2 separate regions of the Homo sapiens genome follow, and region 1 is linked to region 2. Evidence: fine-mapped expression QTL. A gene starts in region 2. The other region holds a variant in brackets. All regions are shown on one strand. Distances are from middle to middle. Region 1 has its middle 23 kb from the start of ATP5MJ. Region 2 holds the start of PPP1R13B (protein phosphatase 1 regulatory subunit 13B).

What was found.
Region 1: its variant is fine-mapped to the expression of PPP1R13B in esophagus mucosa (GTEx, PIP above 0.99). The same link has a PIP of 0.9 or more in nasal epithelium.

What each region holds. Positions count from the first base shown.
Region 1 is chr14:103,897,023-103,899,917 of GRCh38, reverse strand. No RefSeq gene overlaps it. Among named protein-coding and RNA genes, the nearest start is that of ATP5MJ, 23 kb to the left of the region's middle. The variant C/T (reference allele first, on the strand shown) is at 1,456.
Region 2 is chr14:103,846,409-103,849,275 of GRCh38, reverse strand. It overlaps PPP1R13B (protein phosphatase 1 regulatory subunit 13B), which reads left to right and starts at 1,701. Exons shown (of 17, transcript NM_015316.3): 1 at 1,701-1,977. The coding sequence starts at 1,969. It overlaps PPP1R13B-DT (PPP1R13B divergent transcript), which reads right to left and starts at 1,555. Exons shown (of 3, transcript NR_038436.1): 1 at 1,533-1,555. RefSeq lists silencers at 1,142-1,211, 1,232-1,361, 1,382-1,821, 1,992-2,191.

The DNA of each region.
Region 1 (2,895 bases), 51 kb before region 2:
AGACTGGCGGGATGCCCGTCGCCTCTCCCTGCCCCACAAAGCGACTACTGTGGGGACCGCAAGGAGCCACATGGAAGAGCTGCCTGTCCTGGCCGGCTCAGGCTCTCCCCAGGCTGAGGACAACCATGGGACTGATAGAGACACTCTGTTGTTGAGATTCGGGCTTTCTCTCTTTCGAAAAGGGGTGAAGACGAAGGCTTGTGTCTGCATCTCCTCTCTGGTCTCAAAGCTGAGTGGCTTTTCCAGGGAAGCCAGCACCCGCGGCCTCTCATGCCAGCCCAAGCAGTTCTGAAGCCCACCCCTGTGACGAGGCGCTGCCGGCTGCGGAGCCTGTGCCAGCACGTCTCATCACCCAGGCGGGCTCCCCAGGCCCACAGGATAGCTCTGCCCCCAGCCATGGGTACTGCCAGGCCATCTCCCCACCCCACCCGGAGGAATTGAGGGCCTCTGCCTCACACACACATCCCTTCCCCGCAGCCCAAGCACCAGCACACCAGCAGGTGGAGAGAGTTGTTTCACTTGTGCTTGAGAAGGCGCCTTCCCTTCTAAGAGGAACTGCAGATGTGAACGTTTGCAAATCAAATTCCAACCGAAATGGCCTGCAGTGGCAGTTCTCAAAGGGTTTCCTGGGGCCACAGCAGCAGCATCTGGGAACCTGTCATAAATGCAGGTTCTTGGGCCCCACCCAAGACCTGCTTTGGGCCCTCCGTGATAGGGCCCAGGCCTGTGTTTCAGGAGCCCTCCAGGAGATTCTGATGCATACTCAAGTGCAGCCCACTGACCTAAAAGAGCCTGCCTTTGAAGGAAGCCTGGAGCAAGGCCTTCTGCAAAGACTTGAACCACCCGCAGTTCTGCCCAGTCAGCACAGCTGAATTTTCCTCCAAATACAGCACAGGGTGCACCCACCTTCAGAAGAAAAGCCCCCCGGCCCAGCTTCCAGGTGTCGTGAGGAGAGCAGCCGCAGACCGAGGCTGCATACCTGGGGCTGGGCTCCCTTCCCCTCCCCTGCCGCCCTGCCTGCCCTGCTGCAGGAGGCGAGGCCCGGCTGTGTGCTCACTGCTCCAGGCCTGATGATGGCTGGGAGCATTCAAGGAGCCACCCCTACCTGTGCCTGGGGCGCAGTTGGTCTTGTCTTAAACTCAATTTCTGGTAGACCTGGAGGCTGGGCTCAGCCTCAGTCTCCCTCCACCTCTCCACCATGTGTGTCAGGCAAAGAGGCTGGGCTTCCCCGCTATTTTCCTGCCCTGAGCTGAGCATCAAGCTGGGCCTCAGAGATCCTTCCTTTCTCCCCATGCTCCCCTCTCTCCAGGAGGGGAGGGACTCTCCTCCAATCTCCAATATATGGTACATATACATATATATATACCAAAACAAAGATGTAGCTGCTGTCACTGCTGACCAGAACACCCTTCCGGTGTGCCTTCCCACCTGAGCTGTGCCTGCACTCACCAGCCC[C/T]CTTGGGCAGATTGCCACTGTCTTTAGGAGCCAGGCTTATACCCACCTCTCCCCACATGCCTACCCAACTCTCAGGTCCCAACATGCCCAGCAGTTGAGCCAACACAAGTTGATCTAAGTTCATCAGAAGGTGAGTGTTTGACTGATTCTATACTCGCCACACAGGCCCACCCTCGTCTCATGCAAGTGACAGCCCCAACTCCACTCCTCATCTCCCAGCCTGTGAACCGAGGCAGCCATGGAGCCTGGAAGGAGAACAGACTCCAGTATCCACAGACGCCCATTCTAAGATGTTCTCACGGGGGATCAAAAGAAGCTGAGATCTACCCATGTTGGCCCTGTCGGGACACAGTATCTTTTGGGGATCCAAGAAGACACTGTGGGCCCCAGGACTCCTGGATCCCAGAACTGTGGCTGGCCCTGGACACAGAGCGGCCTAGAAGATCTTGGCTCTGTGTCTCACTGGGGCCTCCTTGACCCATTTCCAAGCTGTCCTCTCTCCTCCCCGTGCCTGCTCCCTGCTACGCTGCTCCGCTCCTCCTGACTAGGGTCACGATGCTGTGTGGGGCCCCATGGCACCCACACGACCTTTTGGCCATATTTCCCTTCTCCAAGGAGCCTCCCTCTTCTGTTTATGGTCCAAACCTGAATGGGACATCTGACTGGCCCGGCTCATCTTCGGCACCAGCCTATAGGTCTCCCGCCAGCCTATGCGCGAGCTGCCCTCGGGCCTGGTGTCCGCCGGTGATCCATGCCGCGTGACAGGCCAGGGTTTCAGGGGTTTCCTTCCCCACAGCTCTGCTCATTGTCTCTCTCCACCATTGAGACGCCCATCTGGGTCCCTTATATTTTGGTTTTTAAACCTCCCGGTTTCATGCAGTTTTATTTCATCTTTAAAGGTTGACACATGGTTGTCAGCCCAGCGGCCCTGGTCTGGAAGTCCAGGTTTGGGTGGCAATGGCGGTGAGAGTGCTTTGGGCCTCGGTGCCAGAGGCCAGCCTGGTGATTTAGACACCTCCTCCCTGCCAGGAGCCTGTGTTCACTCCAGTTCTTTCAAAGTGGCTGCAGAGGGGGGAGGTGGGGATTAAACGGAGGCTCCTCACTGCAGCAGAGGAAAGCAACCCTTGCCAAGCCCCTGGTCTTGTGCCAACTCCCTGCTGGTTTGGGGAAAGCTGATGAGGGTGGCCCGCCATGCTCTGGTTCTCAGGACAAAGTTCAGAAGGTGAGCCCAGCGTCCTGGCAACAACTACCCCTGGCTGCTCCGTGGCCACCGTGGGAGTGGTTAATAAACACCCGGGCTGGAGGTGGTAACGCCTATCTTCCAGGAACTTAGTTCAGAAGAGCTTTATGACCTGGATGGAGTCACCTGTTAAAGAGTAACGTACACCCCATATTACACTCGAGTCCCAGGAGTAACTATCCAGGGGAAGTGTTTATTTC
Region 2 (2,867 bases):
GCAAGTTGCCTAAGGCCCCACAGGAGGTCAGAAGCAGAGCAGCTAGAATTAGAACTTAAGTATGTCTCTGACTTTCAGCCTAGGATCACTCATTATCTAGAGCCTCCTCTTCTCTCCAAACTCTGCTCCCAGAAGAGGGGTGTCATTAGCCATTCATGCCCAGGTGTGGATAGGTTTAAAAATCCCAGGGACGTCTGTACACTAAGCCTCCTTGCTAATCACGGCCCAACTACAGAATGCTATTTATGGAACAGCTACCACGTGCCACAAATTGTGCTGGGCGCTTTCCATCCCTCGCATCCGAAAAAGCCTCTTGACACGAGGCAGGCACTATTATCCCTACACTCTCCCATCACAGAGACAAGCACACTACGATGCAGAGAAGATGCGGCTTGTTTAGGATCCCAGGCGAGGGTGTGGCGGAGGCGGTGCTGAACCAAGTCTGTCTAACTGGAAAGTCCACACTCGCAAACACGAGCCCCCGTGGCCTCTGAGGGACAGGGGTGGCTCCCCAGGAATGGGCTGGTGGGAGCTCCCTGGCCTCCTCCCTTGCTCTGCCCCCACTCTGCAGCAGCCAGAAGCCTCTCCGAGAACCAGACAGGCTCCAGACTGACCCTGACCTCGCGGCGGCCTTCTCCACTGGGCCGGCGCTTCCCAGGGCGGCTTACGCCTTCTGTGTCTGGGGCCATCCGCAGACCTTGCCTTCTGATGCCCGTGGGAGTTCGGTGCTGCCGCGGGGAGCACCTCAGTCCCCCTGTCTGCTCTCCGCCGCGGTCCGGGCGAATGGCACCATGTGGGGGGCCCCGAGCGGGTGCCTACCCCCCTGGCAGCCTTTACTGAGGGTCTGCTCAGGGCCCTGCCCAGGGCTCTGTCACTCCGGCGCTCAGGCCCGAGGGGGCGGCGCCTCTGGAGACGGGACTGCAGGGAGAGACCCAGGCCCTGGAGACGAGGACCGGACCCTCCCCGGGGACGCTGGAGCTGGACCTCGAGGGATGCTGGCGCAGGTGGGCACAGGTGGCACAGGTGGGCGCGGGGTTCTAGGCGGGAGATCGCTCGGGCGAAGGCCAAGGCTCGGGAGCTGGTGCGGGGGGCGCGGCCCCGAGAGCCGCGGAAGACGCCGGTGGGGGAGAAGCAGGTGCCAGCCAAGGGCGTCGGGCCGGGGCTGGTTCCGAGCGCGCGGCCTCGGGTCACATGCTCGCTCCGGGGGCCCCCCGCGCCCCTCCCACTGGCCTCTGGGCCGCAGCCCCACGGCGCGCCGGCAGCCGGGGGTCAGGCCGCGGTCAGAGTGCGGGCGCGCGCCGTCGCCGCAGGGACGCTCCCGGCCCACAGTCGGCCCCCGGGAGCCCGGGTTCGAGTCCCGGCCCTGCCGTGATCCGCTGCGGGACCCGGGCCGGCCCTTCCCTGTCGGGCCTCAGTCCTCCCACCGTCCGCGGTCTTCCCTAGTCGGGGCTCACGCAAGGGCGGGGGAGGCCACCGGTGCCCACTGCGCGTCCGCCCCTCCCCCGCCGCCGGGAGCGCGGACGCGCACGCACCTGGCCGCCGCTGAGAGCGAGGGTAGCGGGCGGAGCCGGGAAGCCCCGCCCCTCTCCCCGCCCCCGCTCCCACCGGGCCAATCAGAGGGGGCTACGGGACCCGTGCGGGGCGTCGCGCTGGGGGCGGGGCCTGCGGGGGCTGAAGAGCGAGCCGGGCGGGCGGGCCGCAGGCTGTCGGGCTGGGGCTGAGGCTGAGGCTGAGGTTGAGGCGGCGGCGGCGGCGGCCGGGTGCCCGGGACAGCGACGCAGCGCGCCGGCGGCCGCGACAGGGCCAGCGAGAGCCCCGCAGCCCGCCGCAGCTGCCGCCTCGCCGCGGCCGGGCCGGAGAGCACGGCGGCGGGAGCGCGGCCTTAGGAGGCGGCCGGAGCGGTGGGCACAGCTCGGCGCGGAGCGTCCTGTCAGGCGGCGGCCGAGGGCGTCGCGGACTCTCCCCGCGATGATGCCGGTGGGTGAGGGCGGGCGGGAGGTGGCGGCGGCTTCCTCCGCGGGCCGCTGGCCAAACCTCCTTCCTCCCGCGGCTCCCAGCCCCCGCGGGCCGGTGCGAGGCCGGGCGGGCGGGGAAGGAAGTGGCTGGGCGGGCGCGCCCGGCCGCGGCGCCCCCCAGGCGGGCAGGTGGGGGCGGCGCCGGGCTGTCAGCGCGGGGCCGGGGCCGCCTGCGGGCCCTTCCTGCTCGGCCTCCGCGGCCGCGGGGAGAAGCAGATGCATTTGGGGCCGGTCATCTCCTCGGTCCTCTCAGGTGCGCGGTCGGACGCTGGGGCACAGGTCTGGTGGGTGGCGCAGCTGTGACCCGCCTGAAACGAACGTTCTGGGGTCGCCCTGGGAGTCGGCGGGGTGGGCACCCGCGCCCGGAGTTCCCACACTCTGCAGGCGCATTCCCGTAGCCTTCGCGGTTGTACTGAGGAAAGGTGCCGAGTGCACGGATTTGGAGAGCCATCTTAGGAATTCCCTTTTCCCGTATCTGCAATGTTGGTTCGTTTTGCTTTAACTGGTTTGTTCTCCGTGTTCTGAAGGTTGAACGAGGTTCGTTTGTAGTGGTGGTGTCTTTGTCCTGCCCTTAAGGATGCTTTCGCCTAGAAAGACATTGGCCATTAGATTTGCCATCGTCCTACCGACCCTTCCCTTTACCTATAATCTGAATAGGAGGGGATGCTGAATTCTGATTTTTAAAAATTGGCTTTTTGGGAGGTAAGCATCATGACTTATGAAAAAATGTGGGACTGGTTGTACCCAGTTGGAGAGGTATTGGTTTTCTGAGCGCCTATATCGTAAGTAAAATTCTCAAACACGTTTATAGTAAAGTAACACAGTCATTTTTTTAACCTACAATACTACGTT